Regions from separate parts of the Homo sapiens genome. Here regions 1, 2 and 4 are each linked to region 3. Evidence: fine-mapped expression QTL. A gene starts in region 3. Each other region holds a variant in brackets. All regions are shown on one strand. Distances are from middle to middle. Region 1 overlaps LINC03033 (long intergenic non-protein coding RNA 3033). Region 2 overlaps PRKCH (protein kinase C eta). Region 3 holds the start of LINC03033 (long intergenic non-protein coding RNA 3033). Region 4 overlaps LINC03033 (long intergenic non-protein coding RNA 3033).

Region 1 (5,747 bases), 83 kb after region 3:
CAAAATTAGAGCAACAACTAACATATGCTGGATACATATCCTGGGCCAGGATGATGCCAGGTATTTTACAGTCGGTCACTCCTCACAACAACCCTATGAGCAGCAGTCTCTTCCTTAAGATTTTGAGCGGGCCCAGTAATCACTACCCCTCTTCATCCCCTTAATTCTCAAAAAATTAAGATATAAGACAAAGGAGTAACAGATGAAGATGTTATAATATCACCTCTATTACTGATAAAGTCTCCCTTACAGTGCTAGTGGGAGCATAAATCGATATAGCCATTTTGGAAAACTAAACCTGAATATATGCATTCTCTATGCCCCAGCAATTCCACTCACAGAAATATACCCAGTAAAGTGTGTACGTATGCTCACCAAACGACATGTACTAGAATGCTCATAGTAGCACTATTTGTAAAACTGGAAAATACCCATTTGCCTGGCAACAGTAGAAGGGATCAATAAATCTTGGTATACTCACACAATAGATTATTATATAGCAATAAGAATGATCAAACCGTAATTACAGGCAACAATATAGATGAATATTGCAAATGTAACATACTGGCAAAAAAAACAGATGCAGAAGAGCATGAACTGTATGATTTCATTTATGCAAAGTACAAAAGTGGGAAAATGAATTGGGTTTTAGAAGTCAGTTCAAGATAGTTGTTGCCCTTGGGTGGGGACAGTGATTGAGAGGGAGGAGGCAGGAGACTTCTTGGGGACTAGCACTATTATTTTTCTTGAAATGAGTACTAGTTACTTGGGTGTGTTTGGTTGTGAAAATTATAGAGCGATACACAAGCAGTAAGCATCTTTACCATATATATAGTTCTTCAATTAAAAAAATTTTTAAATCCTCTCTTGATCCCGTCTTCCCATCCAACTACCACTATCTCTCCTCTTCCCTGTAAAGCAAATGTTTTTGAATGGAGTGTCTTTGCTCGCTGTGTCCAATGTCTGCATTCTCTCTTGAACCCAGTCCAGCAAACCTTTTGCCCTAGATTCTAAAAAGCTGCTCTTATAAAGATCAATGATGACTTGCATATGGCTAAACCCAATGCTCAGCTTGCCTCATTGTACTTACCAGCAGCATTCCATACAGAATATCACTCTCTGCATATTCTTTTGGTTTCTGTACACAGTATCCATCACTAGGTGAACTCATGGAGCCTCATGGCTTTAAATGCCCTGTCTGTACTGATGACTGTCTCATTTATATTTTCAGCCCAAATCTCTCCTTGGCACATCAGACTTGTGCATTCAATTGCCCACTCAACATCTCAAACATAATATATTCCAAACAGATGTCCTGATATCCTCCAAACCTGCCCTTCCCACATTCTCCTCCTTCTTATTAAGCTTCTCAGATCTACTCCATCCTTCCAGTTGTGTAGCCCCCAAACTTTGGAATAACCCTAAACTTCTCTTTTTTTTTCTCATACAATGCATCTAATCCATTAACCAGACCTGTTGATTCTACCTTCAAAATATATCCAGAATTTACCCACTTCTTGCTGCTTAGACTGCCACCATCCTGGTCCAATCCACCTTCCTCTCTTGCCTGAATTATCTCAATAGCCTTCTAGATGCTTCTTCCCTGCCCCTCACTGCCCTGCCCCTTGCCTCTGCCCTTGCTGCCCCACAACCTATTTCCTACAAAGAGCGATCCCAGTAAACAATAATCCAAATTATGTCATTTGTCTGCTCCAGACCCTCCTGTTTTCCATCTCACTTAGATGAAAAGGCAATTCCAGGCTGTGAACTTCAAGACTCTGTATGATCTGACCTCACACTGGCTTTCAAACCTCATCTTGCACACTGCTTCCCCAGTGTGCTCTGCGTTAGCCGCATGGGGATTTTTATGGGTCCCTGGACACTCCGGGCATTTCCCTGGCTCAGGGCGTTTGCATTGGCTGTTTCTGCTTACTGGAGTTCTCTTTCCCTGCTATATACATGGTTTTCTCTCTCATTTCCTTCAGGTCTTTCTTTACTCAAATGACATCTTTTTTAAAAGAGGATTTCTATCTAAAATTTTATACACATATCTCTGTATCCCCCTTCTCAGCATTTTTTTTTCTCCTTGGCACTTATCACTCTCATGTGTGTGTTTGTTCATGTATTTATTGACTGAGTGATTTTTTTCTCTCCCAATAAGCTGCAAACTCTGTGAAGACAGGGATATTTTTCCCATTTTTGCCCCATCATGCTGCAAGCCCAAGGTACAATTAGAACACATCCAATTCACTGTCCATCTACCTGTGGCACTTCAACCATGACCACAAACCAAATCACTCTTCCTGTATCACATTCCCTGAGAGACTTTGTTTTCTCCCACAGGAAAGATTTGTTTATTTTTCTGATTCAATCAAATGTACCACTAGTTTCTGCAGGATTATTTGTACCTCTTTCAGGATCCTGAGGAATTTGCTCCTGGGCCATGAAGATGGGAAGCTGAGTCAGAGTGCAGTTCTTCACCCAATCCCACAGCCACACGTGCCTGCTTGCTCACGGGATCTTCCCACTCTCCTCGGGAAGGCTTCCGAGCTGCTTCCTCAGGATGTCCTGTGATAGCAGCCTGACCTGTCAAAGCCATGCGAATACCATCTGTTCAGTTATATAACTTGAGATCTGGGAAGAATTCTCAACGTAGGATTTGCTGCCCAAATCAAATCATTTTCAGAAAGGAGATTAAGCATTCTTTGCTGGGAAAAGGAGAAATTACCAGAAAAAATTATCATTTCACTGAGTATAAACAAACCTTTGTCCAAAATACACAAATGAAAATGACAAATTTGCTTCATTAATATTTGCTTGCATTAAAAATATACACAGGGCTATGTATGGTTCAATATCTTAAGTGCAAAGTAAAATCTTAATTAGGAACAATGGAATTGTTAATTTAATGAATCTTAATTTTGTTTAGATCATTAGCCTGCAGTATAATGTCCCAAGCAGAATTTGGGGTGGGGAGCTTGGTGGTGGAAGAGGAAGTGCTCATTTCTACAGACATGACAAGATTATTAACACTAAAGAATGACTTTTCTTTCATGGGAGGGGAAGATATCTGACCCACCAGCAGTCAGACAGAAACCCTGACTTGTGATTTTAACATTACCTTATATGACCCATGGTCACCTTGTATGACCAAAGAAAACCATTTATGAAATAGCTGTCCGGAGTTCAAGATTTAAATGGTAACTTTGTAGACTAGGTTTTCTCTCATCATCTAATTTACTTGCCTTAACGCTTGTTTCTTTGCCCTTATTCCTACTGGCTCTCGAGTATAATATCCTGAGAATTTATGTTGAACAGCACTAATTTTTTCACTTGGAGCTAGCACATGTTTATGACTAGTACAAGTTTATAACTACAAAAAACAGAG[A/AT]TTTTGTCATCTTAAACTGAATTTACTGGGAATAAAATCAGTCAATTCAGAAAAGTATAACAAAGGAAATAAAAATCACCACAACTCCTACTACCTGAAGATTAAATGGTTAAAGTGTTTTGTATATTCTTCTGTAATTTTTACACCTACATGTTTTTTAAATAAAAATTAACCCTACCTATAAACCAAACAATATTATTTAACTAACAGGAGAAGAATAAATTATATTTTTTGATTGGCTGTATAGCAAAGAGAATCCTGCCATTCAGAAAAAAACAGGGTAAGACAAGGAAGGAAGCCAAATAGATGGACTGCAATGGAAGTTCACCCAGAATGAATAAATGAATGAATGAATGAATGAATGAATGGAGGAGCTATTTTACTGACTGTGGTCAGTCAGGGAACACCTATCAGAAAAAGCAGCATTTGGCCGGGGGCAGTGGCTCATGCCTGTAATCCCAGCACTTTGGGAGGCTGAGGCAGGCGGATCACCTGAGGTCAGGAGTTCGAGACCAGCCTGACCAACATGGTGAAACCCCGTCTCTACTAAAAATACAAAAATTAGCCGGGTATGGTGGCAGGCACCTGTAATCCAGCTACACCAGAGGCTGAGGCAGGAGAATCGCTTGAACCCAGGAGGCAGAGGTTGCAGTAAGCTGAGATTGCACCACTGCACTCGAGCCTGGTCAACAGAGCCAGACCCCGTCTCAAAAAACAAAAAAAAAAAGAAAGAAAGAAAGTAAGAAAAGAAAAGTAGAAACAGCCTTTGAGTAGAGACCAGTGAGCGATGGAACTCTGTAAGGATCTGGGGGAAAACTTATCTATCTGGTAGGAGGAAACCACAAGTGTGAAGGTAATGAGACAGGAGTGGAGTCAGTGAATTGGCGGAACAGAACAGCACAGAGGACCCTGGAGCTAGCCCGGGATGAGGCAGCGGAGAACAGCAGGAGACGACATGGAGGGAGACAGGTTTTTCCTTTTCCAGTTTTCTTCAGTTCTTTTGATTGACTCAGGAGAAGAGTCTTAGTTTGATATTAGCACATACTTAACACTTCTGGTGTTCACTACTCTATTTTTCAACAAAAAGACAGCAGACTTTGGGATCACAGCCTTCTGAGAGGATGGTATTTAACTAAAATATAATAACGTTGGTTTTTATTTTTTTTATTTTCACAATTACTATCTTTTCTTTTTTGATATAGGGTCTCACTCTGTTGCCCAGGCTGAGTGCAGTGACACCATCACAGCTCACTGCAGCCTCTAACTCCTGGACTCAGGAGGTGGGATCCTCCCCCCGCAGCCCCTCAAGTAGCTGGGACTGTAGGCATGCAGCACCACCTCCAGCTAATTTTTTACTTTTTGTAGAGATGGGGTCTTGCTATGTTGCCCAGGCTGGTCTCATACTTCCGGGCTCAAGCAATCCTCCCACCTTGGCTTCCCAAAGTGCTGGTATTACAGACATGAGCCACCGCACCCAGCACACAATTCCTCTCTGTTTATAGCAAGTTATGCTGGTTTCCTGTTTACAGGAGTGATAAAGTCTTTTTTAAAACAAATGTATTTAAGTTTCAAATTAAATCATCTTAAAGAAAAATATGACATAAGAAATGTCAAAAAGTGGTACATGATCAGAAGTGGCAAAAATCATAAAAGTAATTGGCAAGTGACTTAAGTTTGGGAAACACAGTTCTAATCCATCCCACCTATACCTGAACACCCTAAAGATGAATCCAAACCTATTAGAGACTTATTCCTGCTTTCTAAGATGATCACAACCTAGTTAATCTAGCTATAAATTAATCTGGATCACTAGTCAGTGATACTCCCACCTTCAAGTAAAATGGCTGCTTTTTGAGAGCTTTAATTCAGATTCTGTTCAGAAGAAATAACAGGTATCATTGTTAGTACAAGGACTGGTCATAGAGCTATATCCTGCCTGTTAACCACATAGATTCTGGCAGTGATTTCCCATTGATATCATCTAGGTAGTTTTACTGGTTTTTCCCCTAGTTGTTTCTCTTTTTTTGTTTGTTTGTTTGTTTTGACAGAGTATCGCTCTGTCGCCCAGGCTGGAGTGCAATGGTGCGACTTCAGTTCACTGCAACCTCCGCCTCCTGGGTTCAAGCTATTCTCCTGCCTCAGCCTCCCGAGTAGCTGGGATTACAGGTGGCCACCACCACACCTGGCTAATTTTTTGTATGTTTTGCAGAGGCAAGGTTTCACTACATTGACCAGGCTGGTCTTGAACTTCTGACCTCAGGTAATCCACCCACCTCAGCCTCCCAAAGTGCTGGGATTACAGGCCTGAGCCACCACGCCCAGCTCTCAGTTGTTTCTTAATTTGCCTGCCAGTTTGTTT
Region 2 (5,747 bases), 31 kb before region 3:
TTTACCACTGCCCTCTCCACCCGCAACACCCCCGAGGTTGTGGACTTGTGAGTTCTTTGTGTATAGCTGTTCAAACATTTCCTATAGACGTGGGTAGTGGACAAAGGACTTGCTTGTGAGAACTTTTCCCATGGAGTGCAGAATCAGTGGGTGCGGGGGTAGCTTGAGCACACTTAGTTTTTAGCCCAGGATTTCTACTTGAAAAGAATTCCCCAAATCATTAACCAGTAATCGCACATCTAAAAGTAACTTTATATGCACCCAAATAGGCACACTGGGAAGACTATTTTTCTTGCTTCCCCTTCTGTCTTTCTCATCTTTGCTTCAAATGTTTCTGCTCAATACTTAACGTGTGCTTGCCTCAAAAGCAGCCTGACCTGCGACTCGCAGAGAATGGAGTATTCACACTGGCAGGATCCTCAGAAATTAACACAAAAAAGGCATATGACGATGACACACACATTTGTGTAAAGAAAAAATAAAAGGCATTCCAGCTGTTATTTCTTAATTTTTTTTAACTTGGTTTGGGAATATATACTACCTGTTTTCTGGTGTCAACATGCCATCAGGTTTCTTAGGCTGACTAAATCATCCCAAAATGCTGATAATGATGAGACAAAAGAAAGTCTATCATTTTTTTAGGGCTTCTGAGGTTCCACTGAGTTTTGCCCTCATCTAGGTCCAGAAGGGCTTAGGGAAGTCCCAGGCGAGTCAGCAGAGCTCAGGAAGCTGAAGCCTTGTCTCAGAGGTTAGTGCTCCTTTGCTGAATCATCTCCAGCAAGAAATCACGTGACTCAGGGTCTACTCAGGTGAAGTCGGCACCCTTGTCTTTGAGCTCACACAGGTGGCTGAGCTAAATAAGTGCTGAAAGGAGCTGGGTGCACTCTCCTGAGTCACCTTTGTTGACTCTGGAAGCACTGTAAACTTGGCATCAGAAGGAGATTATAAAGTGCTTTTGTTCCTAAGCTTTATAAAGTGTGTGTGTATGCATGTGGGTTTCTCTGTCATCCAGCCTCTCAGATTTCATCATCCGAGCATTGTCTGCAGGAATCCTGTTTGCCTGTACGCACAAAGGAGGGAGAACCACAGTTAATTCGGGGATCCTCTTTTAGCCCTGAGTGTGTCCCACATCTGTCACCAGGCAGTGAATTCCAGGAGCATTGACTGTCTTCCTGTTCATTTCCCTACTCCCCTCCTGGGAGAGGCTGGAATGTTCAAGGAAGCCAGCAAAGGTGGTCAGCCAGGAGAAGGCTGGGGAAGAGGAGGGAAAAATGGGACCCGAGTAACGCAGAGGATCCAACCCCAGATCATTAGGGCTGGTTTTTCAAACACTGTTAGGGGAAATCCAAAGAAAGTTATCAAAAGATCCTTGAGTAAGAGGAGTGGTTAACATGCAACCTGGCAGACTGTTGCCAGGACTGGAATACCTGTCTGAGGAAAGGAAGGTGCCCCACAGGCCTCTTACCAAAACCCCTAGTGAGGTTAACACCCTTCAGAAAAGGAACCGTTTGCTCACAGATCAAGGCCAGTGTCTGCAGAAAACAGAAAAACACTGCTCTTCCCAGAGATTTTGTATTTGGGTCTTTTTAAGTCATATAATTTTACTAAAGTTCTTGATCTCTACTTCTTTTTCCCTCATTAAATTGTAAGTTTCCTAAGGTTGGAAGTCCTTACATTTTGATAGCAGTGTAAAGGATTTTTTAAAATGTATTTTTAATAGAGTACTCATGCTGCATGTCTCATTTATCTCCATCCCTGCCAGGAAGATAAAGATGTCAAAGCTTTTGTAAAATGACCACGGAAACTTTTCCTGTGTGGAGATTTGCTAACCGGTGTCTGTGGGTCAGAAAAGCTTTTTGTTTCGAGTTAGAAAAACTCTTGTCAACAAAAGTATTTGACTTTGTTGTTTTTTGTTTGTTTGTCCTTGCCAACTATCAAAGGTCAGTAATTTGGGGCAGTTGATCATTAGATTTGGTTTGGATGCCAAAGATAATGCGCATCCAGGATAAAGAAGGGTACTGGCCTTGATTTCATCAGAGGAGGATAAAGGACATTGTATAGTCCCCACTAGAGAATCTTTGTTCAGCACTCACTTCTCTTCAGTAGCTACATTTGGGGAATCATACCTGGAAAAAAGTAGTTCGTATAGCTTGGGCATGTAGGGTAGCAGCAGCTTTTTCTTAACACTTGGAAGTCATTGGAGAGCATTGAAATCCGCCCCATCAGTCAGAGCTGCTTGAGACTGGTTTGTCAGGAATAGAAGCATGTTGTCTAACAACGGGCATTGGCACAACTGCATGACCTTGGGTTTCCATCTCCGAGACTTGCCTCTAACCTTTACCTACGGTTAATCAACATTGTCCCATGACCAGAAAGAAGATACAAGGAAGCAATAATGATTATAAAACCCAGGAAAGGCAGGGTGTTGGGAGCCTTGGAAAGGAATTGAGTATGTGCTTATGAAGGGCTGCTGGATTCCAGTCACAGACAGCATGGAAAACACAGCCAGCAAACCCACCACGGATTTGAGCACTGCCCCTGCCCGCTAGAGGAACAGTATAGGGCATTTAGTGTACTGAGTTTCATCGAGAGAAAATAAAGTACACTGTGTAGTGTGTCTCTGGAGATATCGCACAGAATATTCTGATGCTGGTCAGTTACAACCTGCCAGGTAAGGCACTGACCCACCGGCATTCTCAAATATACCCACATGCCCACTTCCTCCATCACTGGCTCAGGGAGATCAGCTTGAGCAAGTTTATTTCACTTTATTTTTAATAAAGAAAAGCCCATTTCAGACTCAAGGAAAACAAAGCATCTGTAGCTGAGGGAAGGACAATCTTCAAAATGCCAGCTTTTTTTTTTTCCTCCCAGAGTTTTTAGTGATAAATGCAAAAATAGAAGAAAGAAAAGAGTCCCTTGATATGGGCACAGACTGTGGAGGCCACTGGTGTGGCCACCCACCCACCTGACGCCGGACAGGCCAGTCCGGCTCTGCTTCACGTGTTTTCAATGACACAATGCTGTTCCTGCCAGGGAGCACTCTCATCACTTAATGGTACTGAGTATTACAACCACATTACGTGTTTTAGTTTTTCTTATGATGTATTTAGATATGCTGCCTTTAACTTCCACTCCCTGAACTTATTTCTCCCTGAAATTATTTCTCATCTAATCCCTCTTCTGGCCGACAGCTCTTTGAGTATTTGAAAATTTTAAGTGTCCTTCTATCTTTTCCAGCAAAAAGACCCTCAGTAGTTTGAAATAAAACCAGGTGTCAGGCTGAAGGATGCCTCGGATTTTTTCCAGCCCTATTACTTTT[C/A]TTTCCCTTCACTTACCACCTGCACTGTATGTACTTCTCAGCCCTTCTCCTTCCATAGAATCAGAGGAAAAAGAATGTCACATGAGCCAGCAAAGAAGTACAACACAAGGAAACACACAGAGTGCGTGAATTCTCATCAGATGAAGTCCTGAGTGTCATTTATTAGGTGAAAGTAAAGTAAACTGTGTAATGATTCTCCTCACCTGTCGGTCCAAGTATCTTAACCCAGAATCCAAATAAGAAGATTGGTAGCCTCAAGGGGAAGTCTAGCGTAGGGACTGAGAGCAAAGGCCTGAGTTCAAATCCTGACTGTAGCACTCCCAAACTGTGTGACAGGTTACAGATGGGTCTGTTTCTCAGTTTCCTAATCTTTAAATTAGGAATAATAACCACAGTTGCTTTAAGGATTATATCCAATGAATTTGGAACACTTAATGCCTATGCAACAAAGGAGTATGCAGCATACATATATGGTAGTAATGGCTACCACTTCTTAAGCTGTAACTTGTATCAAACGGTATCATTCTCTACTCTCTCCACTCCTGCAGCTTCCCCCTTCTCAAACCAGTCTGGATACCTGGCAGGGTGGTCCATTGCCATGAGTGTGCAGGTAACTAGTTCCAGCCCTCCCCAGCAAATTCCATCCAGATCCAATCTTAGCAGGATAGAGCACCTCTCCTTCTCTTGGCTCGTCCAGTATTCCATAGCAGCACCATTCGGTATAAGAACCTAGACTTGGGAAGATTACAGTTTGTTTCCCCAGAGAGATTCAGGAAGTCTGTTGTCTGTCCTTTCCACCCTACCAAGCCCCATCCCACCCCCAGTGGACTGTCATCAGCCCCATCTTGCATTTAAATGTCTGTCACTGCCTTCTCCTATGGAAAAGTGACTTATCAATGCCAGGTCCAAGCCTGGTGTCTCTCCCATACTGTGCAGCCACATCCCTGCATGACCACTGCCCTGAGCTGGAGGGTGCTGCTAGCACGGGGTGTCTCCAGATCTCCCCAACAGCTGGCAGGAGGGGTATAAAAGGAGAAGGTTGGTCTTCATAACTGGGTCAGAATCTGCGTGTGCCAGCAGCATCCTTCAGACAGACACGCGCCTGCAACACGCATGCGTGGTGTGCTTCTCGTCAGCCCCAGGTGGCCATTAGGGTCTATGGTCATGGCGAGGTTGGGCGTCATGGCTGTGAACCGCACTCTATTCTGTGTCCTGTGCTCTTTCTCTGCCCTTTCTCCCCAGGACCCTCTCTAGAGCCATTAAATGCCTTTTCCCCATTTAGGATCATCGCTCTGGAATATTGGCAGGAAGGTTCTGTGGCATAGTTTCCTTGCCTTCTAACTTGCCAGCATTAGCTGCTAACTCTCTCTCTGCCCTTTGTTTAAGGTCTGAAATTGAATGAATGGAGAAGGTCATTTTGTTTGCCCAACAGCCACATCCAACCATTAGGCAGAAAATACAGTGTTCTCTGGCTCCTGGAAGAAAATCTTATTAGACTAATTGCTTTATTTATATAACTTGTCCTCTTCCTATGAAATCAGACAGATTTTGAAAGAGGAAAAAAATACTTGTGGCCATTACTTATATTTTAGTGAGTAAAGTACATTTGGGCCCAGTTATTTCAAGACTCATAATGACACAGCGTTAAACTCTATAATCTGGAACATCCAACAACTCAAAACTGAAGCTGCCTCCTGTGTGCCCACAAGATGTGATAAGCACCATACCTGACACCAGATTTGCAAAGAAGCTGCTCCACTGCACCCATCTTGCTGCATTTAGTTTCTCTGTCCTATTGTTAATGCAGATATAGTTGCACATTAAAACCTATTGTTTGTAGGCCGGGCGTGGTGGCTCACACCTGTAATCCCAGCACTTTGGGAGGCCGAGGCAGGCGGATCACTTGAGGTCAGGAGTTCAAAACCAGGCTGGCCAACATGGTGAAACCCCGTCTCTACTAAAAATACAAAAATTAGTCGGGCGTGGTGGTGCACACCTGTAATCCCAGCTACTCGGGAGGCTGAGGAAGGAGAATTGCTTGAACCTGGGAGGGGGAGGTTGCAGTGAGCCAAAATTGTGCACCATTGCACTCCAGCCTAGACAGCAAGAGCGAGACTCCATATCAAAAAAAAACAAAACAAACAAAAAACTATTGTTTGTATTCTCGTTTTAAGATTGTCTTAGAAAAGGTTTTCTGTCAGGAAAAAAAAAAAAAAAGTTTTCCAAATAGGGTTTGGTGGTATGTGCCTATAATCCCAGCTACTCAGGAGGCTGAGGCAGGAGGATCACTTGAGCTTAAGAGTTTGAGACCAGCCTGAACAACATAGGAAGATCTTATCTCAGAAATTAAAAAAAAGCAAGAAAAAGGAACATTATTTTCCAAAGACCATTCCTCCCACTGCACTACTGGAGCCTAGGACAGTGA
Region 3 (5,747 bases):
GCGCTCTCCAGTCCCACTAAGAAAGCAAATTGGATTGGTCACTTCCCTGTTTAAACCTTCCAAGGCCCTGCATTGTTCTCAGGATGAAGTCAATTCTCCTTTCTCTGGCTGAGTCCTGGCTCCTCCTCAGCCCATCACTGCTACTTGCCCTCATCTCTCTGTGCCCACCGGCCACCCTGCCTTCCTGCAGATCCTACCGCCTGCGGTGTTCTTTCACCAGCCTGTCCTCTCTGCCTGCAATGCTCATTCCCTGCCCCCATGTTCCCTAGCAAACTCTCCTGCGACCGTTAAATTACAGCCTAAAAACATCCGCTTCTCTTTTCCCCTGGGGGCTGCCAGTTCCCTGGGGTAGAGTTCAGTCTGTTGTGTCCAAAGCCTAGCCAGTAGATGCTCCCATGTTTGTTGAATGAACAGAAGTTGGGACGGGAAACCAACAGACGCTCAGGACTGGGGTTTGTTTTTGTTCCTGTAAAACTGGATTGGTTCTGCAGAGGCACAAACAAGCCCGTTGATTTAGATCTATCGAGGAATTGGGGTAGGGGCAGGGGTGGCAGTTTTGCTAAGAAGAAAAGCAGGTGAAAGTGGGAGATTCCAAAAGAGACCAGAGAGAAGGCAGTGTGTCCTGCCCAATCTGCCGCTAGGGTCAGAGACCAGCTCCCTAGTCACACTCGGCCAAGGCAGGCTGCCGGGCTGACTCCAACTCTAAACAAAGCCAGGCAGCCGCCCAGGTGGGTGAAGGCTGCAGATTGCGCTCAGGCGTGACGCCGGGGTGCAGGTGGGAGCGACGCCCGGGTGCGTGGGTGCAGCGCTCGCCCGCCCGCGGTTAGGCGCACCGCGGGAACCGGTCAGGTGCGCCGTGTGGGGCGGGGCGGAGGCAGGGCGTGCGCCCCCAGGCTGGTGCCTGGGGCAGAGGATTCGCCTGCTTGACGCGCTGATGCCTTGATTTGGTCTGACAAGTGGAGGCTGCTTTGAGAAGCGGCCTGTATTTTTGACATTCAGGAAGCTAGAAATAACCAGCTGGGCTCCTGGCGCTCTGGCCGCAAATGTCTTGCGCTTTCCAGGCAACTGCCAGATTGAAGGGGCTTTTCCCCAATGTAGACCTGTGCTCTGTGTGCTAGGAGGCCGAGGTTCCAGTCCAGGCTCGGCTTCTGACTCCCTACTTTAGGAGGAATCACTGAATTGACTGCAGCTCGGCTTCTGCTCTGTAAAATGGGGCTGTTGCTAGCTGAGCCTCTTCTGCCTCTGGTAGAAAATGATTCCAAGTGGCTGCCCTGTCCACCCTAATCCCATGGCCCGAACTTGATGTCTGCTGCTTCTAGAAGCCTAGTGCTCCAAATATCTGCTCTGGGAGGGACTTGCAGATGATCCTGATTGGAAATGAGGCTGATTAACCTTTTGTGTATCATTGACTCTAGGACAATCTGTTGAAACCTAGGGGCTCTTACCCTAGACAAATTAACACACCAGCCAGATACAGCTTACAAGGGCAGAGAGTTGCTGGTTTGAACCACAGACCCCTGGTTTAACATCTGTAATCTAGTCAACCCCTCCTCTTTCTTGAAGGCTGAACCAAACACGAAGGGTTTTCCCCACCTTCCAATCCTCATACATGCAGACACCCCCTTTTCCTGCTTTCTCCTTCAGTCATCTTCCTCACCATCCCCCATGCTTGGGCACTCTCAGGAGGGAAATTGTCCTATAAATATCTGTAAAAGGCATGGTATGTCCTGTAGCAGAGAAAGCAAAAAATAAAAATATAATTCCTCCACCCCTGGCATGGCACGTGCAGAGCTCTGCCTGATCCTTCTCTCCCACAAGCCTCGGGGGTGGGTAAACAAAAGTGAGAGGTGAAGCTGCTGCAGCGAAGTACCCCTTCAAAATCTTCAGTACCCTTCAGAGCCAGCGCTGTCATCACTATCACATAAACTGTACAACTCCAACGTCAACCAGCAGCCGCCTGGCTGGCAGCAGGAAGAGCCAATGCAATTTTGCACAGTGGCTTGCTTGCCCAAGGTATTGCCTGGCAAATGGGCTTCTTGTGCAATGGGGAACCACAGGGAGGGGCCTCTTAAATGTACCTCAAAGAAACAGCTCTAACAATGGATGATTCAACAGGCTAGTAATTGGCGCTCACTCTTACCACATTGTTTTGATAAAACGACATAGCCCAACTGGGGATATGAAGGCAGTAAGTAGAAAAGCTAACCTCTTGCTACTCAAATTGTGGCTGAGAACCAGCGACATCCCATCACCAGAAGCTTTATAGAAAAGCCAGGCTCTGTCCCAGACCTATTGAAAGGAGATCTGCATTTTAACATGATTGCGAGAGGATCCACATCTTAAAGTTTCAGAGGCCTAATCCAAAGTCTTCTGATAATGATCATTAGAGTCCCAGCCACCCCCGACTTCCCCCTGGGAAAACCACAACAAATAGAACAAATTCCTCCAAGCTCTGCTCATAAGAAGAACCCACAACCCACAGACACCCCCTCACTCAACTAGAGACCTCACCCACCTGTTTGCAGAGTCACCCACCTTGGGCTACTTCTTTTCTACTATTTAATCTTCTGGGAAAACAGAGGTCTTCTATTTGGAGATAAAAATGACAAAGGAGAACCTCCTGAACAGCATCCAGTTTGCTTTTAGCTTTAGCCATCTCTCTGACCTCAGTGCTGCTGGACTCAGTTCCAAGATCTAACTGTCAAATGCTTTAGGGGAAACGGGAAGAGAAGTCCCTGGAGTAACCCATGTGCGCAGCCTGGCACTGTTTTCACTTGCCTTTGGAAATGAAGGTGCAGAAACCATGGGAGGTAAGGAGGGCACAGACTAGTGACTTCCAGTGTGGGACAGAGGGGAAAAGATGGAAGAGAAGTGCAGAAAACCACTCGGGAAAAGACAGGCTGGAGTGATGCCTGCTGAGACAGGGCCCTGATCTCCCAGGACTTCCCTTTCTGCCTGTTCTGTAGAAATGTCTCGGGTTTTGTGGTTTAGGAAAAGAGATGCTTAGCAAGCTTGTAGAAAATGTAATGTGGGCACTTTGTTGCTGTCCTGGCTTTTAAAGGACTCTGAAGCAGATCAGCTTCAAGGTATTGGCTATTCTGTTTGCAGCCTTAGAAAGACATCCTTGATGTTTTATTGTTCTGCCTTTGCTAAGAGCTGGAAACTCTCCCTGGGGAAATGGCTCACCTTGAAAGAGATGCTATCGTAGCTGAAAATGTTTTAGCTTCACTTCCAATCTCTGGTTCCTTGTGGGAAGTAACTGCTGCTGTGGTATATATGCCCTGTGCCTTTTATTTTTACCATCTTTACCTCGGTGGACACAGCTGGTTGAAACTCAGTAAAACTTATGCTTCCATGGAGATTGATTCAGACAACAGGAAAAATAAGTGTAGAAAAAAACTGCACAGTACAAGGGCTAGATTCAGGTTGTAGAACAAAGTGATTATTACTTAGAATCCTGGATTAGCAAGAGAATAAGAAAGATGCTGAGATTACCTAGTGTTATCACCATCCACGTGAAACGTAGAATAAAACTTTTTCCCCACCACATAGATATTGGGCAGTTTATTATAGATGCTACAAAGGGATTTATTATATTTTTCCCAAAATGGTTAATTAGAGGCATCCCAAATTACAACTCCTTTAGCATAACTCCCAGCTCCATGCAGCCTACTTACTAAGGACCCAGCTACTGACAGCTCAGCTCTTTGCCAATCCAACTTTTTTTCCCCATATGCTCAAACTTTTCTTCTCCAAGAAGACTTCCTGAATGATCCCAATTCATAGGGATCTCATCCTTAATGCAGGGGAAATTCACTGTTCTGGAGTAGTCTACCATACCATCACGCTCTTCTTTTTGTGTAATCCTGGATTTCTTCTCCAGTTGTTTTATTCTTGCCTGTCTACACAGATAGATCAGTAGCCTTCAATAGTCTGCATCTCCTGTTATCTTGCAGCCTCCTACTATAAACAGTAGGTGCTTTACTTATGCCAGTTGGGTTGACCTAGACAGTAGTCTCTAAGTAGCAGTCCTTGGCTCATCCTTCTGAAACCAACGAGCTCTTAGGCAGGCTGAGAAAGGGTTAGGACTGTTCACTCTGGGACATCCTTGGCTCTGTATGAGTGTTGTTTTTAAAAGCAGGGATTTTGTCTCCAGTGCATTGAAGAGATAAAACCCCATTGTCAGCATATTTCTTCAGGATCTTTCTGTGTTAGATCTCACTGCCAAGCCAGAGTCCCCACACACAGACTCTCACTTTTCCCCCATCAATAGGCTGAAGTGAGGCAAGTAGTAGAATGTGCTCAAATCATGGCCTATTCTTAATAAAAGAAACAAGGACAGCTTGGGGCTGGCTCGTCTCTTCTCAAATTCTCCTAGTGTTCTGAACCAAATGTATGAAACGAATAGATTTGTTTTATTCGCAGGTATTAATGCTTCTCCGAAAGCAGTTGTTTGGGTGGCTGGAATATCAGTAGTCATTGACCAATAAGGCTTGCAGGTGTGAATCAGAGCAGTATTCTGGACTTCCAGAGTAGAGCTGCCATCTACTACTCTACATCACCTTCATCCTTACAGAATCACTGAGACCATTCATTCATTCACAAGCAGTTGTGTCTGCTACATGCCAGGCACTTGTAGTAGGCATTAGAGATACAATGGCAAGTGAAACAGACACTGCATGTAATCTACTGAGAGAGACTGGGAATTAATTCAATAAGTAAAAGTAAGTATATAATTATCAATTGTGATAAAGGCCCTGAAGCAAAAGAATAGGATGTTCTACAAGAATATTACAAGAGCTTTATCTGATCTAACGTGTATGGGGAGGGGAAGCCTCAGGGAACGCTTCTTAGGGGAAGTGACATTTGAGCTGAGCGTTGAAAGAAGAATAAAAATTAAAAAGTACAGAGGGGGCCAGGTGCAGTGGCTCACACCTGTAATCTTAGCACTTTGGGAGGCCGAGGCAGATGGATCACTTGAGGTCAAGAGTTCGAAACCATCCTGGCCAACATGGTGAAACATCATGTCTACTAAAAATACAGAAAAATTAGCTGGGTGTGGTGGCAGGGTGCCTGTAATCCCAGCTACTTGGGAGGCTGAGGCAGGAGAACTGCTTGAACCCAGGAGGCGGAGGTTTCGGTGAGCCAAGATCGCACCACTGCACTCCAGCCTAGGCGACAGAGTGAGACTCTGTCTCAAAAAAAAAAAAAAAAAAAAGTGAAGAGGGGTTAGAGAGTGCCCAGGATACAAAGAGTTAGTTCATTGGAGGAACTGGAGTAAAGTCCTTGTGGCTGGATTAAAGGGGACGAGGAAAACCAAGATATAAAGAGGTAGGCAGGGGCTGGATCACATGTGCACACAGTTTTGAAGACTTTGGCTTTTATTTTGGAACAGTGGAAGGCTGTTTTAAGCAGAGGATGAGAACATTAAATTTATGTGTCCAGAAGATTGCTCTGATGAGACAAGCGGTGAACAAAAACATCATTACTCAGGTCTCATCCAACTCTTCCATTGTATATTCTAATAAACCACCCAAGTTCTGCTTTCAGAGCTCTGAGCCAAAGTGAGTTATACCTCCCCAGGCCCACTGAAAATCCCAGAGAGCTTACTGAATGGCGTGGGGGCCCTGGTAAAACTCACCGTTCAGGCATTTGAATCTGGGCCACTCTATTACTATCAGCATTTTGCCTCCACTCCCAAGGAAGAAATCCTTAAAATTATAACCTTTGGGTCCCCATGCCCAGGC
Region 4 (5,747 bases), 73 kb after region 3:
TGTGAAATCCTGCCACTGGCCAGCGGCAACTGGAAACAAGGCCGAAAATAGCTCAGGCAGAATCCCAGCTTCAGGACAGGGATGGAAACACTTTTACCAAGAGGCTTTCTTTAAAGCCATGTAGAGCACTTGTGGAAATGGTATTGTGGCGTTATTTTTATTCCAAACACCCATTCCCAAGGGAACCCTGAGCCACAATGCCCTTCTCTGTTGCTGAAGAAAAGGGACTATGCTGGCAGGGCTGAGAAAGCTGTGTGAAGAGGCATTGGCAGGTGGCACCTTAGAAGGACCCGGGTGCGGGACACATCTGCAGGTGCAAGTGAAGACAAAATGCTGGCTTGTTCTCAAAACTACTTGTGTTTCTCCTTGTGGAGAATAAAAATATCCCCTTTCAATTTTATCACCAGAACTGGATGAAGGAGATCATTATGTTTCCAGTTCTCAAATCATTTCTATGAAACCCAGTGTGGCTGCCTAATAATTGAGTTCCCCAAGGAATGAATGCATTTTTTTCACCTTCTCTACAAACCTCTCACAAGCCTGTCTCCTAAAATCATGAAAATTTTCATTAAATATTAATATTCATGTTATTTTTATTGCAAAAAAAAGTATCAGAATCCTCAAACATGCTCACCAATTCCAGAGCATAAATTCTGGATCAATATCATTCAATAGAATGGTGATGGGTTTCTTCTATATGCTAAGCACTCAGAATACCAAGATGAGTTTATTCATCTTTTTAAAAATAAATTTTCTTGTGTACATTTGAGGTTTATAACATGATGTTATGGTACACATAGACAGGAAAGTGGTTTCTGTGATAAAGCAGATTAACATATCTATCATCTCACAGAGTTGCTTTTGTGTGTGTGTGACAAGAGCAGCCAAAATACACTTATTTAACAAAAATCCCTAATACAAGCTTTTTGTTTGTTTGTTTGTTGAGAAAGAGTCTCACTCCATCGCCCAGGCTGGAGTGCAATAGTGCGATCTTAGCTCACTGCAACCTCACCTCCCGGGTTCAAATGATTCTTGTGCCTCAGCCTCTCAAGTAGGTGGGATTACAGCCCAGCTAATTTTTGTATTTTTAGTGGAGACTGGGTTTCACCATGTTGGGCAGGCTGGTCTCGATCTCCTGGCCTCAAGTATCCACCCACCTCGGCCTCCCAAAGTGCTGGGTGAGCCCCGCACCTGACCCCTAATGTAAGTTTTATTGACTATAGTCCTCATGTTATACATTAGATTTCTAGATTTGTTTATATCTGCTACTTTATATCCTTTGACCCATATCACTGCATTTCCTCTCCTCCCCTTGCCCATAGTAACCACTATTTTACTCACTGTTTCTGTATATGAGACCTCTTTTTAAAACTAATCCACATATACGTGAGATCATGCAATATTTTTCTTTCTGTGTCTGGCATATTTCACTCAGCATGTCCTCCACACCCATCCACACCCATTCTTCTTTTTTTCTTTTCTTTAAGGCTGAATAAAATGAGTTTAATATGGCCTGGCTTTCAAAGAAATGGATACATAAACAAAGAATTACAATATGATGTAATAAAATAAAACTTTATATTTTATAAACAGTAAGATCGTTGCATAAGAAAGGGAATGATCAAAATGTAAGTGGGCAAAAAGGCTTCCTGGAGTAAATGGAATACGAATTTGGCTTTATGAGATGAATAGGAGTTTGTGAGGTGGCTATGTGTGGGAAGGGCATTCCAAGCAAAGGGAACAAGACGTGCAAAGGCAAAGACACACAAATGACTACCATGTGTCCTAGGCACTAAATGTGAGTCAGCACTGCTGAAGCAAAACGTGCTCTAGGAGGCAGCTGGAGAGGAAGGCAGGGCAGCAGTCAGTGGAGCACGATGCATGGAGGTGTGTTCCAAGTAACCTAACAGCAGGAGCAGACTGAAGATGATTTCTTTTCTGTTTTTATTTTGTTTAAATTAAATTAGAGTATCTATCCCTGTAAAAGTTTCATCAGTTCCATTCTCATATGAATTCTTGAGTGGGAGGGACAGAGGCATTGACTTCATCATGCTATGAGTTGAGCATCACCTGTGTCCCCCGAGGGAAGTGTGTCATACAAGTGAACAGTCTTTCATGGCATCATGGCAAGGAAAGGGAGTGCTGCCTACGGGTTGCAGAGAGACAAGGGGTTTAAAGCGGGAGTATATGTTGGTCAGATTCACGTTTAGCAAGATCCCCCTGATAGCACTGTGATGAACTGTTTGTATTGGATGGTGGGAGGCATAATGGGTTAGTATTTTAGGGCTTCTAAACAAATTGCCACAAACTAAGAGGCTTAAAACAACAGAAAAATTATTTTCTCATCATTATAGAGACCAGAAGTCTGAAATCAAGGTATCATCACACTCCTCCTGGAGGCTACAGGGGAGAATCCTTCCTTGCCTTTTCAAGCCTCTGGTGGCTATTGCCAGTCCTTGGCTTCCTTGGCTCGTGGCCACATCCATTCATTCTCTGACTCCATCTTCATATTGCCTTCTCCTCTGTGTGTTTGTTGTGTCCTCTTCTGTCTCTTAGAGGGACACTTGGGACTGGAGTTAAGGCCCACTGGGGAATCCAGGAAGATCTCATCTCAAGATCCTTAATTACATCTGCAGAGACTTTTTCCAAGTAAGGTAGCATTCACAGTTTCCAGGGATTTGGACATGGATATATCTGTGTGGGGACCACCATTCAACCCATCACACAGAAGAATCTTATTTCTGAACCTATGATCAGCAAACCAACTGCATTAGGATCTCATGGAGTGCTGCACTTTATGAGTTGCACACTACTAGACCGGAGATGCGGACTCAGGAGGTGTCAGCCAGCCACCATGAGGACAACCTTGTGATGAGCGTGGGAACTAGAATTAGAATGATCAGGAGTCACTAGTGACTTGAAAGTAGAGATGAGGAGGATGAGGTTGAACATAATGACTTCTGGGTGTCATCACGGGACAACTTACTGAGATGAGAATGCAGGGAGAAAGCATAGTATCCTAGGAATCTCAACAGTTGGAAAGACTAGTGAGATCATCCTGTCTAGCCCTTACACATGATTCAGGATTTCCCTTTTTGGTATCCTTTACAAATGATCATGCAACTTTGATTTAAGCAACTGACTTTACTGAAACCAAAGTTGCATGATCATTTGTAAAGGATTTGTCTGACTGTCTTGTCTGTTTCCTTCACCAGCTTATAAACTGAATGAGAAAAGAGGCCACGTTT[C/G]TTGGGTTCACAGTTATTTCCCCAGAACCTGATAGAGTACCTGTAAGCATGAAGGTTCTCAATATGTATTTTTTGGGGGGACTTTTGGTGGTGGTGGCTGTTGTTAAAACTACTTTATTGAGATATGATTGTCATACAAAAAGCTGTACATATTTAATGTATACAGTTTGATGAGTTTGGAGATGTGTTCACCCATGTAAATATGTGTTTTTGAATGAATGGGTGAATGAATGAGCAACTTTGGTGACAGGAAGATGTAGAAACTAGGTAAGAATTAGAATGGTTAACAAGAGTTATTCCAGTGGTTACTCTTCCATTTGGGGCAGCTCTAATTTCATGTTCCTCTTTATACAGTTGCTTATTTTGTTCCCTAGGTCACTCAGAGTGAGTCTAGCCCTTCCTCTATGTGAAAATTTATTTCAAATACAAAGAGAACTGTTGTGCTCCCTAAGTCTCCTCCTCTCTGGCTAAGTATCTTCATTTACTTTAACCACATGGCCTGTTTTAGTCCTGTTTTAGAAATGCATCACAATTCTAGTTGTTCTCCTTTCATTCACTCAACAAATATTTATGAGCATCCACTGAGTGCTCTGTACCAGGGCTCTGTATGCAGTAGGGGGAAAAAAGAGACATGCACTTGCCTTCCACCTCATCAGTGTTCCTCTGAAGTTATTAAACATAGCAATCCCCAGAACTAAGAAAAGCAGATGCCCCTTCCTTTGTACTGGGTATGTTCTCTTTTACTACTACAGTATATCTAAATAAGAGATACTGGTTCTTCCACTTGCTTTTTTGCAGTACTAGATGTGGTATTTCTTGTTGTTTGTACAGCCATGGACCATGAATTAAGTGTGACTTTTCTTTTGGGTACAAGAGCATATATACATAGAAGGATATAGATGGTATGCACAACACAACCATCTACATTCATCCATCCCTTACAAATAGAATACGTGTTTGCACTCTTTGATAAAGGTAATGCAATGCTCAGAAAAGCGCCCCAGCATCTAGAGGAGCAGGGTGTTTTTCAGGCATCTGTGAGAAACAGATGCTCTGTCAAGCCAGGGACAGGGGCTCAGGTTACATCCTGTGTTCAGTGAAGCACATCAGAATCATTTGCCTAGTACAGCCTCAAGTAATTGTTTTATTTCTTATTCTTCTATTATTTTATGCATTTTTTCTACTTTTAATAATGAAATAAACCCATAATAAAACAAAAATAATTCAACAAAACTGATGGGATTTTTTTTTTTCATTGCAAATGTCTGTTTAACTAATTTGTTCACTAATGGAGGCTCCCAAGCTTCAGAAAAGATATTCTCCTTTAAGGGAACACAGATGTTTGACTTAAAATTCCATATTTGTGACATTTCAATATTGGTATCCTCATTTTTTTTTTACTAATGAAATTGTAAGAAAACAAAATCTGCTTGTCCTACAGCAATTTGGCTGTGATTCAAAAACTTTTTATTAAAATGAAGTAATATGTTCTGCAAATCTAATTGCAGAGGAATTAGACACACTAAACCAAATAGTCATCTGTGATACAAAATGAAATAAACTAGAGAAAAACCATTTCAGGAAATAGACAGTAGAAAGAGGTTCTAAGGAATGGCTGTCTGCTTCTATTGTGATCATTTCTGTGTTCAGTTTTGATGTTTTTTAATGAAATATTTTAACCTTAGACCTCATTTTCTTTATTTTCCTTTTTGCCCTGTCTTATGGTATGATCAGACCTCATTTTTAAATGACACATTTATTTCACTAACATTGTACTTATGTAGTTGAAGTGAATGGATTAGGATCATTGACCAACTTAATTGTATATAAATGCAAATGACAATATATCTGTTGGAGTTATAATAATGGTTAGAAAATAGGGAAGAATGACAAGAGAAGTTTAGTGGAAGGTGGGTATGGACATAACGAGAGTGCATGGGTAAAACTAGCCAAAATTGTTTGGCTGCTTTAATTTGCCTCAGTCTTCAACTTTAAATAAGAAGATTTAATCAATTAGATTACTTGCAGTATAACTATTTCAATTCTCCAAACACCATTAGGTTATCTGTTCTTCGGGCCAAATTCAATGCCACGTACAAGGTAAATGCTGAATATTTGCAGAATGAATGAATGAACTAATGGACAAATAAATGCCACACTTCTTCCTTTTTTTTTGTCTTGATAGGAGTGTAGGTCAGTAAAGACCTCAAAGTTCTGATGCCTGTAATCGAGATACAAACATTTGACTCAACTAATAGAGAACTATCTTTTGCATTAGAGTTATAAACAGAACACTAGATGAATTTTCATATTATTCTTCTCTAGTAAAGACATTAGGTCACAATTAGCATTTACTTGAAATGTTTGTATATTTAAATTTCTCTATATATTTATATTATTAAATTGTTGTGACTAGAATGTAGTTTTATTTATAAATGGTTTCCAAACTATACTCTAGCCATGATCAGTTGGATAATTCAGTGTTTTTATAACTGATAC

The links. PIP is the estimated chance that this variant, and not a neighbour inherited with it, causes the effect.
Region 1: its variant is the best candidate, but not a certain one, in a credible set for the expression of LINC03033 in whole blood (TOPMed, PIP 0.72).
Region 2: its variant is the best candidate, but not a certain one, in a credible set for the expression of LINC03033 in lung (TOPMed, PIP 0.76).
Region 4: its variant is the best candidate, but not a certain one, in a credible set for the expression of LINC03033 in whole blood (INTERVAL, PIP 0.61).

The regions. Positions count from the first base shown.
Region 1 is chr14:61,651,206-61,656,952 of GRCh38, forward strand. LINC03033 (long intergenic non-protein coding RNA 3033) reads left to right here. Exons shown (of 3, transcript NR_039985.1): 3 at 2,418-3,508. Among named protein-coding and RNA genes, the nearest start is that of HIF1A, 41 kb to the right of the region's middle. The variant A/AT (reference allele first, on the strand shown) is at 3,389.
Region 2 is chr14:61,536,847-61,542,593 of GRCh38, forward strand. The region is part of intron 12 of PRKCH (protein kinase C eta); the gene reads left to right. It overlaps PRKCH-AS2 (PRKCH antisense RNA 2), which reads right to left. Exons shown (of 3, transcript NR_188139.1): 3 at 1-1,060. Among named protein-coding and RNA genes, the nearest start is that of PRKCH-AS2, 5.8 kb to the right of the region's middle. RefSeq lists an enhancer at 453-1,652. The variant C/A (reference allele first, on the strand shown) is at 3,323.
Region 3 is chr14:61,567,951-61,573,697 of GRCh38, forward strand. It overlaps LINC03033 (long intergenic non-protein coding RNA 3033), which reads left to right and starts at 2,590. Exons shown (of 3, transcript NR_039985.1): 1 at 2,590-2,810. It overlaps LINC01303 (long intergenic non-protein coding RNA 1303), which reads right to left and starts at 2,703. Exons shown (of 5, transcript NR_110416.1): 1 at 2,536-2,703; 2 at 1,594-1,727. RefSeq lists enhancers at 295-796, 797-1,296 and silencers at 638-707, 788-947, 1,688-1,880.
Region 4 is chr14:61,640,709-61,646,455 of GRCh38, forward strand. All of the region lies in intron 1 of LINC03033 (long intergenic non-protein coding RNA 3033), which reads left to right. Among named protein-coding and RNA genes, the nearest start is that of HIF1A, 52 kb to the right of the region's middle. The variant C/G (reference allele first, on the strand shown) is at 3,249.